Homo sapiens: one gene and its partners. The protein of the gene in region 3 purifies or fractionates together with the protein of the main gene of each other region. This does not show direct contact. Each region holds a gene or a part of one and is shown on either strand. Other genes may lie near its edges.

Region 1 (3,657 bases), on a different chromosome or scaffold from region 3:
GGCTGGGGAGGACAGGAGGGGAAGGGTGGGGGATCAGAGGGGAAGGATGACGGGGATCGGAAGGGAAGGGTGGTGGGATCGGAGGGGAAGGGTGGGGAGAATGGGAAGGGAAAGGTGGGGGTGATAGGAAAGGAGGGGTGGGCTAACAGGAGGGGAAGGATTGGGGGACGGGAGGGGTAGTGGGGACGGGAGCTGGAGAAGGGGAAGGGGCTTGCCAGTGATGATGGTGGTCGGTGGGGTGACAGGGTTTTTGGGGTGAGGCTGGGAGGGGCTGGGGACGCGTGCTGTGGGACTCAGGGCTGACGGTAGGGAGGGGCCTGGTGGGGACAGAGGCGGGTAGGAGGGGCTCTGCAGAGTGCAGATGATGCGGAGGAGGCGGTGAGGGTGGGGCGGGGCTTGGAATCAGGATGACAAAGGACCGGGAGTGAGGAGACCAATGGCTTGGTGGGGAGAGTGGGGTGTTGGGAGTTTGGGCAGATGCTGGTCGGGCTTTGAGTCAGGATGAGGGGGCTTGGGTAGTGGCTGGAGGACGATGAGGTGATGAGGTCGATATTGTGTCATGACGATGGCGCAGGTGACCAATGGATGGGTGACTGTGAGTTGTGTGTGGGTGACTGATGTGACTGACTGTAGATGACGAAGGTGATGATGACTTAGAAATAAACACCTGGAGCAAGGTAAACACGGCAGGCAATGCTCAATAAAGCTAAGAGTATAGATTCTTATCCAAATAATCTAAGAAGCAAAATATTCCTATCTGGTACCCAAGGGCTGTTTAGCTGTCCAACCCCAAAAGCTGAAAAGCTAAACAGAGCTCTGTCCCATTTCTTTCTATTTTTGCAAAAAAGATAGATGCTCTTTGTTAAAAAAAAAAAAAAAGTCAAATTCAAAATTCAGAAGCTGGCTAGGTCTTTTGAGATCTGAGGATTATTAACTCAGCAACACAAATGTAAACCCATGGCTGTGTGGGCCAGGTCTTGGACCACATTTGCCACAAAACTAGTAAGCGCCCCACAAGTGACAATTTCCACTAATCCCTGTGAAAACCTTGGTGAGGGCTGTGTTGCTGCTCAGATTCTGCCAGGGGCACTTGCGGCTCAAAGTACATTCAAGTCTCAAGGGATGTCTCTATAGGGTAGAGGCAGGTATAGTGTTGGGGTTCTGGGTGGGCAAAGAGGGGTGGGGGAGGGCTGGCTGCCTAAGTGGCAACTCCAGATGGCACATTATGACTCAAAGGGGCTATTTTTTCCCAAAAGGGAAGTGGGCCAGGAGGCTCCCCACTTTGAGAAACACAGTTAGGATAAATTTCAACATCAAGCGTTCATCCAGGATAGGCCAAAACCTTTCGGATCCCAGGATGAGAATTCGTCTTCATCAGATCCCAATTGTTGGGGTCAGGAAGTGTTTTGGTTCATACCCCCTCGTTCCTAATTCAGAGTTTTAGAGCCAGAGAGGACCATGGTGGTCGGTGTTCAAACCCCTCCCTCGAGAGGGGCGAGAAAGTGGGCCCAGGATTGGGATAGGGACTCGCCAAGGATCACACAGCGAGTTAGTGGCAGGGCTGGCACAGAGGCCCGGCCCCCCAGCAGCCAACCTGGGGCTCTCTCTGACTGACACACAGCCGCTGCACTCCGCTAAATCTCAAATCAATCGGAAAGATCTAAAGGTAGCGATGTTGAGCTGGATGTGAGTGCGAGTCGGATGTGGTGTGTGAGAATTAACGAACGAAAGCAATCGTAGCTCTTTGCACAGTGGGTGGTCATGTACAGCACTCGTAACGGTTTCACGAGGACCATGTGGCCGAGACCCCCAGGGTAGGGGCGTCGGCACTGAGCCCTGGTTCTGTTGCCTTGTTTTTTTTTGGTCTTTTTTGAAATTTCATTTGAGTTTAGATTTTAGAATAACATACTTATTTCTCTTACTCATTTAAAGATGAAATTCTTATTATTATTCTGTATCATGCATTAAGAGAGAGAAAGAGGATTGTTTTTGCATTGCGTTTGTCACACAGCAGCACAAAGACAATATATGTAAGCGTAGCGTTCACCAGATTTGACACAAGAGATAGCGAACACCACAAAGATTAGGACAGACCGCGTATAGTAAGCTCTGCGGAACTCCAAGAATCTAGAGGGGGCTGTGGGAACGCTGCTTAGATCTCCTCGTCGCCGGCCTCCTTGCTGAAGGTGGTCATGTCGATCTTCTCGGGGAAGATGATGTTGACGGCCAGGTCCTCCCCGCTGTTGTACTGAAGCAGCAGGTTCTTCTTCTTCCGCAGCATGTGGTTGTAGCGCAGGTTGGACACCCAGGTCTCGCACTTGTTGAGGAAGACGATACCCACAGTGCCCAGCACCACCAGGCTGGTGAGCACGCCCAGGATGGTGAAGCAGATGGCCTGGCCCTCGGTGAGGAGAGGGGTTTTCTTGTTGAGCTCTTTCATGGACACCTTCAGGATGCGGTGCTCCGGCTGCTGCACCGGCAGCTCGTGCACCCCAGGGGTCAGGCGGTAGGCCAGCCCATAGCCGCTGGGCAGACGGGTGACCTGCTGGGGGCTCAGCGCGCGCTTCTTGACACAGGTGAGACCTGTGAACTCGGGCTTGCACAGACACTCGTAGCTCACCTGGGTGTGCTGCAGGCAGGTGCCCCCGTTCTGGCACGGGCTGCTGGCGCAGTTGGTCACCGGGCGGCTGCAGGTCTTGTCGATGAAGCCGGCTGGGCACCGGCAGCGGAAGTCGCCCCCAATGTCAGTGCAGACGCCGTCGTTCTCGCATGGGTTGGGGGTGCAGCTGTTGGCCACGATCTCGCAGAAATTGCCTGAGAAGCCAGGGGGGCACAGGCAGGAGGCATGGGAGGCCCGGCCCTCATCATCCACGCAGGTGCCTCCGTGCTGGCAGGGGGAGCTGCAACACAACAGGGACATAGTAAACGGCCTCAGGGGCTAGGCTACAACAGCGCTGCAGGGCACGGGGCTCAGGGCAGAAGGTCCCTGGCCTGACTAAGGGGCAGGTGCTTAAAACACATCAGGTGAATGAGGGAGCGAGGGAGGGAACGCCAGCCAGGGAGGCACAGAGAGGTGCCCGGGGCCGTGACCCCTGTCTGCGAGAAGCTCACCAGTAGCTCTGGGGGTGGGTGGGTGGGTGCCCACCTCACCCCCATCTCGATGCTAACCTGGGACACACCCGACCTCCCATGCCAGGATGCCCACGTCCTCTCCCACCTCTTACTGCACCTCTCCAACCAGAGGTTAGTCTCCAACCGGTTAGTCACTAGCCAACTGGGGAAACTGAGGCTAGGAGAGGAAAAGTCAGTGACAGCCCAGGACTGGAGCAAGCCCCCTTCCCTTAGCTCCATCCCTGGACTGCTGGGGCAGAAGAACCAAGCAAGGGGCGCCCCTCACTCTATCCCGGGACCCGCTGTCGTCCTTCATGCCTATGTCCACTGTTGCCGCCAACCCTCATTATTATTATTATTATTATTAGCGGTGTGGATCCACAGGCTATTGTGCAGGAAGCGCTTGGGGACTCTCAAAGAGAAAGCAATACGAGGTCTGTCTACGGTGGCACAAGCCAGCGTCTGTACCAGGCTGTTTAATAGTGGTCCATTCACCCAAGTGCAGCTTGCAAACCAAAGCTGTTTGCTCAAAGTGGAGTACAAGGA
Region 2 (3,271 bases), on a different chromosome or scaffold from region 3:
ACTGAGCCGATCCCTATCTGTATTCACACACTTCACTTAAAAACAACAAAAAAATCCTCTCAATTTTTTCTTAAAGAATAACGACTAAACATAAGTTAAAAAAATGTTTATAAACAAACGGAACATTAGCATTTATAATCCTGTCAAATAATGAAAATACAGTCAACTTACCTTAAAAAGTCAGGTGGGAATTTCAGAAAAGGGCAAGATGGAAACATACTATCATCTGGCTTGATTAAAATCCCCCGTGGGCCAGGCATGGCAATTCATGCCTGTAATCCCAACCCTTTAGAAGGCTGAGGCAGGAGGACTGCTTGAGCCCAGCCTAGGCAACATAGTGAGACCCCGTCTCAATAAAAAATTATAGCCTGTGACCTAAAAGGGCTGACAGTAATTATACTACAGTTCACAAGTGGACCTGTCTGTCTCTGACAGTAATTATACCACAGTTCACAAGTGGACCTGTCTGTCTCTGACAGTAATTATACCACAGTTCACAAGTGGACCTGTCTGTCTCTGACAGTAATTATACCACAGTTCACAAGTGGACCTGTCTGTCTCTGACAGTAATTATACCACAGTTCACAAGTGGACCTGTCTGTCTCTGACAGTAATTATACCACAGTTCACAAGTGGACCTGTCTGTCTCTGACAGTAATTATACTACAGTTCACAAGTGGACCTGTCTGTCTCTGACAGTAATTATACCACAGTTCACAAGTGGACCTGTCTGTCTCTGACAGTAATTATACCACAGTTCACAAGTGGACCTGTCTGTCTCTGCATAGTTCTGTAAAATGTACAGCAAAAGTTCTTGAACGTTTTGGGCAACATTCTTTTAACAACCTATCAGAAGCCATTCCCTTCCCTTGAAAAGTGCACGTGTGCATACATATTTTACAAACAATGTCAGGGTGTTCAGAGACTCTAAAGAAATCCTAGAGCACAGATTTGACTGACATTATAATTACACTACTTGCATATGAGATTCAAACAGGTGAATATCAACCAATCCCTTTTCCTATTAATACTAATTAAAATTTGCCATTCTGAATTACTGAATCATACTCCAAAAACAGCCAGAGGGAGGGATGCACTAATAAAATTGGATTATATCAATAATTTCAATCTTCCTTTGACAGAATAATTTTAAGTTACTTAATTTGTACAAATGTATTTCTAAAACAATTAAGCTTTAAAAAGAATATATTGTAATGGCATTGTACTTTATAGCTTAAGAGTATAAAATTCCCAAGCATTCTTAAGTGATATGTGAAATACCTGGTCCTTTCACCTGAGTACAAATTTTGATATTTGGTTTGTTCTTATCTGTACCAGTGCCTTGGCTGTATCCTTGACCAAAGAATGTCAGCGTGAATGAGGCAGCATCAATCTGTGAAGGAGAAGGCAAAGGGCGCATTTCATAAATACGTCATTTCCTCCTGGAACATAGTAAAACCGACTATTCTATTTCAAGTGAGACATTGTCAATAGATGAAAACATTATTTTATCTGCCAGAATATCCCGTCATCATTTAAGCAGGGAGCGAAAACTAATTCTTTGAAGCTGTCAGTTTTGAAGACTGGCGTGATGTTGGGGGGAAGGGGAGTGGTAAGAAATAGGGAGGAAATAAAGATGATCTGGAGATAGTTTTTATCGGGGGGCAGAATATAGAAATCTGGTTTTAGATACCTATTTGAGGCGACAAGACAAAAATAGCCAGCAAGTAATGGAAATATGGGCCTGGAGTATAGGTATATAATTGTTCCACTTAAAGATGTAAAAATTCGACTCAAAAAACTAAATTCTTGAGGACTTATCCTAGCATCTTTCACAATCACTAAATTTAGGAATGAGGTGATAAAGAATTCAATCATGATCAACACATTTTTATGAAGTATCAACTAAGGGTCAGATACCATTGAGGCCCTGAGACATAATTACTGCCTTTGCTGGAGCTTACAGTTTAGTAGGAGGAAAGGGGGGGAGAGAGAGATAAACAGATTAAATAACAATGTGACATGAACTAAAACATACAGGCATAACTCAGAGGAGGGTGTTATTAATCTACCAGGGCAGAGGGCAATGGTTCTGAACTGTATATATACACACACACAAACACATTTTAATGGTTGTTTTAAAACCCCAAAAGTAGATGGATTCCAGAAAGGAGAACCCATTATTTAAAGGGAAGAAGGGATGCAGTAGCATAGCCTTTCCAGAACATACAATTCAAGAGGTACAGACAAGGTCAGACACACATGCCACACCTGTCCCATCTCCTGCTATGGCGCCCACACTAATGGGTTCTAATCCTCTCTCAGGCTACACACATTGTCCGACCCAGCATAGTCTCTGGGTGGCTACTATCAATTAATCAAAGTTGGATGAAAAATGAATCCTATGTGCTATCCAGAACTAGATCATGAAGGGTCTAGGATGGCCTCACATCTCTGAAGATGGACTTTCGGCCATTTGTGCTCCAGGGGTGGGTACCAAAACCACTCAAATCTGGAACCTTCTTCCTTCCTCCGCAGTGGTGATTCTCAACCCTGGCAGCACATTAGCATCACTGGGCAGATTTAGAGAGCCCCAGTGCCCAGGCTGCATTCCAGACCAACCGAACCAGAGTCTCTGGTCATCTGTTTTGGGTTCTCTTCCAAAGTTGGGAACCACTGCTCTATGCTTTCAGGCCCCACTCCAGACCTACTGAATCAGAACGTCCAGAAGCAAGATGAGGGCATGTGTCAGTGAAAAAAGCTTCCTAGGTGATTCTTTTTTTTTTTTTTTTTTTTTGGAGAAGGAATCTCGCTGTGTTGCCCAGGCTGGAGTGCAGTGGTGTGATCTCAGCTCACTGCAAGCTCCACCTCCTGAGTTCAAGCAATTCTCCTGCCTCAGCCTCCTGAGTAGCTGGGACTACAGGCGTGCACCACCATGTCCAGCTAATTTCTGTATTTTTAGTAGAGATGAAGTTTCACCTGTTGGCCAGGCTGGTCTTGAACTCCTGACCTTAAGTGATCCACCTCCCTCAGCCTCCCAAAGTGCTGGGATTACAGGTGTGAGCCACTGCGCCCGGCCATGATTCTGATATATGAAATCTCAGTTAAGAATCACTGCCAAAGCAGTGGGCCAGGAACATTTTATAAAGAAGGCAATGACAAGGTCAGATTTTGTGTCTTAGAAAGATCTCTTGGACAGCAGTGGGAAGACAGATTAGAAAGAAACCGTAGGAATGCTACGAAAAGTTCAAGCAAGAGATGGAAGCCTGCA
Region 3 (3,657 bases):
TACTTTTTCATTTATACCTCACAAAGTATTCATTAACAGCTTGATTAATATCTTTTATGATTTTTCATAACTATACAGTTGCACATATATACACAGATGCATAAAGGTCTTTTTGCTATAAAAATGGACTTACACTATATATCTTATTTTGCCCCGATTTTCATTCAGCACCTCGTCATGGACATTCTTTCATGTACCATAAATGGTTTTAACATTCACCTATTGGTGGATATTTACATTGTCAAAAACTGCTGCACTGAATACCCCTGGATAAGCTCCTCTGCACTTGTTTGAATGGGAATGGCTGGGTCTAATACAACATGTGTCTTCAATCTAGTAAAGCCCAGTCAACCTGTTTGCCATGGAATTAACCCTCCTGAGTCAGAAGGCAGAAATAATCCCTTTGTTTCCTCACCTGTAAGTGAAGTCCACTTCCAACGTTAAAGCAGATCTGTAAAATAAAATTATTTGATATTTAGCCAATTTACTGCTCAATTCAGTGTGAAAACATTGTTCATGAATAACCTACTGCATTGAATATTATAGACATAAAAAAAGTTTAACCACTACTACTATTCTTTGTCAAGAGGAAACTAATTTTTCCCATTGCCTTCCCTAATGGGAAGTGCCCGAGGAGAAATCTATATTCTCCTGGATCCATACTGACTCCTCCAGAAAACAGTATCTTAAAAAACAAACAAAATAATCTGCCTTGTGAAATCTTAGACATTCTCTCATCCTTTACTCCGCATCCTATGGTTTTTATCTTGTGTTCTCCAGGACCTGCTTACTTTTCCTCGAGGCCACCAGTATGTAATGTACCCCACACCCAGCTAACTCCCACCATCCCTATGGATGTGTGTGCATTATACACACACAAAAAAACACACACCACACACACACGGACAGCCCATGTTCTGACTTCTCGGTTCCTCAGCATCCTCAGTCCCACCAACTCTTTTCTTTGGTTCTTCATAGGCACTGTCACACTTGGGACTTCATCATGACCTAGTACTGTTCTAAATACAGTTATGCTTACTCTTAAATTTGCCCAAAAAACTCCCATCTTGCTTTCTGAATATTTTGCACTGTAAAATAATAATTTTAAAAATTGATGCATTAAAGATGTGCATAGTTTTGGAATACATGTGATAATTTAATACATTCATATAATTTGTAAAGATAATTAGTATACTTGGGATGTCAATTACCTTAAATACTTGTCTTTTCATTATGCTAGAAACATTTAAATAATTCTCTTCTAGCTGCTTTGATATGTATAATAGGTTATTGTAAACTATAGTCACCCTGCTGATCTATCGAACTAGTGTACTTATTTCTAACTAGTGGTCTTATTTCTTCTATCAAACCATATATTTGTACCCATTAATCAATTCTTTTCTTCCCCCACCTCCCCACTACCTTTCCCAGTTTCTGGATTCTATCATTCTATTCTCGATGCCCATGAGATCAAAACTTTTAGCTCCCACATATAAGTGAGAAGATGTTGTATTTGTATTTCTGTGCCTGGCTTATTCAGTTAACATAATGACCTCCACTTCCAGCCATGTTGTTTTGCTGCAAATGGCAGGATTTCCTTATAGTTCATTAATCTCCCTGCTGGCTTCCTTCTTCTCTTGGCTCAATCTGAACCAGCACTTTCTAATATGGTAGCTACTTGTGGCTATTTGGATTTTAACCGCAATTATTTGAAATGAATAATCCAGTTGCTCCACAGCCACATGTGCTAAGGGCTACCCATTTGGACAGGGCAGACAGAAAACATTTCCACCGCTGCACACAGTTCTACCGGAGCAGCTAGCAGACTGCTGCCTGCCACTCTGAAGATGTTGTCAGTGACCACCAGGGAGGCTTCATTTTCATGACTGCTATTCCTGCCTCACTTTTCCTCTCAACTCTAGAAACCTATTATTCTCTTTAGTTCTGACCATGTACTGGCAATATCGCTAGAGGAGGCCACAGTGGCTGAATAGATCCCTTACACATTCATGCTCTCAAATAGCTGCTCTTTCCATGGGGTGGCGGTTCCTTTCTAGTGTGACCATATGTCTGCATTTGCTCAGAAGAGTCTAGGTTGACACCTGCTGTGAGGCATTCCATCTGTTAACAACCCTTTCATCCTCAAAAGTGTGCTCACACTATAAATTATATCGTCACTTTGTCATTGCCTTACCCTTATTGCATTTCTAAAATAGGCATTCCAAACTTTAGGAGATGACTCTAGTCACACCTCTGTACCTATTCACTCTTATGAGATGACCCCATGTATTATTTGACTGAGACTATCTTCAGTCATCCTCTCCTTCCCTTCTTTCCCCACAGAAGAGGTGTCCTGACTCCTTTCCAAGGCAAACCATCGTTTGTGTGCTTTATTTGCAACTCTATTTGTTCTCCCACATTTATCTTCAAGAACCTTAATCCTTCCACTAACCTTTTATCTTCCTTCTCCATTGGCTAATCAATACATTTATTTCCTTCTGATTGGCAAACCAAATATATTTAGGTTTTCCTTATCTTAAAAAAAAAACCAGATCCCTCTCTTGTTTCTGTTAACAATCTATTGCTCTATATCCCTCTCTTACTTATAATTCCAAATTGAAATTATTGTCTATATGTATTGCTCCCACTACTCCACCTTCCATTTATGCATTAATTCACTGGACTCTGTCTTTGGTGTAGCTTTTCTCAGTTGTTTGCCTTTTCCCATCTGCATGGTCACATGGATCCACAAAGCCCTAGTTGGTACATCATGGGAAACAAGGCATTCCCTAAAATTTCAAAGTCTCTTTCACATCCTTTGCATTCATTTGAAAGCTTCCTGTAGGGTCCATTCCACAAGTGAATCTTTCAGCCTCTTTCTTTCCTTTCCATTGTCAGTTCATGTTCTTGGCTCTCCATTCCAAAGAGAAACTCAAGGAGAGCAGATGTTCAGCTTCTAGTGTGGGCTTCTCTGGGGCAGATGAACAATCATGGCTAATTCTCTATTTTATGATCAGATCTATGATCTCTTCTTCATTCTGTCTACTATTAACTTGCCCAGCTAGCAATGGCCAGAGATGTCTCTAACCAAAGTGGTGCTCCCCAAATTTATGTATTTTCAAAGGTGGCATGGTATGAAAAGCAAGGGAAAGCAATGCTGAGATAGATCACTTCTCTCTGCATGTTCCTTGGGTGGGAATTTTTGAAGAGAAAGATCAGTGCCTGGATCAGAGAGGTCCCAGTGTCCACATCATCAGGGAACAGCCTTAAAATTTAGTATATTTAGGCCGGGTACAGTGGCTCACACCTGTAATCCCAGCACTTAGGGAGGCCGAGGCAGGCGGATCATGAGGTCTGATGATCGAGACCATCCTGGCTAACACGGTAAAACCCTGTCTCTACTAAAAATACAAAAAAATATTAGCTGCCCGTGGTGGTGGGTGCCTGTAGTCCCAGCTACTCGAGAGGCTGAGGCAGGAGAATGGCGTGAACCCGGGAGGCAGAGTTTGCAGTCGGCCGAGATCGCGCCACTGCACTCTAGTCTGGGCGACAGAGTGAGACTCTGTCTCAAACAAACAAACAAAAAAATTTAATATATTTCTTGCCCATCCTTCTAACCATCAGACTCTTCTCTTTGATACAGGCCATATTAAGTAG

The links.
Region 1: the proteins of DSG2 (region 3) and DLK1 purify together in Homo sapiens (co-immunoprecipitation; one large-scale study listed by IntAct). This does not show direct contact.
Region 2: the proteins of DSG2 (region 3) and SCCPDH purify together in Homo sapiens (co-immunoprecipitation; one large-scale study listed by IntAct). This does not show direct contact.

The regions. Positions count from the first base shown.
Region 1 is NC_000014.9:100,733,392-100,737,048, reverse strand, and holds part of DLK1 (protein delta homolog 1 isoform 1 preproprotein), read right to left. Parts: intron 2,901-3,657; coding exon 2,153-2,900; 3' UTR 1-2,152. UniProt on the Homo sapiens protein: May have a role in neuroendocrine differentiation.
Region 2 is NC_000001.11:246,762,368-246,765,638, reverse strand, and holds part of SCCPDH (saccharopine dehydrogenase-like oxidoreductase), read right to left. Parts: intron 1,394-3,271; coding exon 1,282-1,393; intron 1-1,281.
Region 3 is NC_000018.10:31,515,033-31,518,689, reverse strand, and holds part of DSG2 (desmoglein-2 preproprotein), read right to left. Parts: intron 452-3,657; coding exon 416-451; intron 1-415.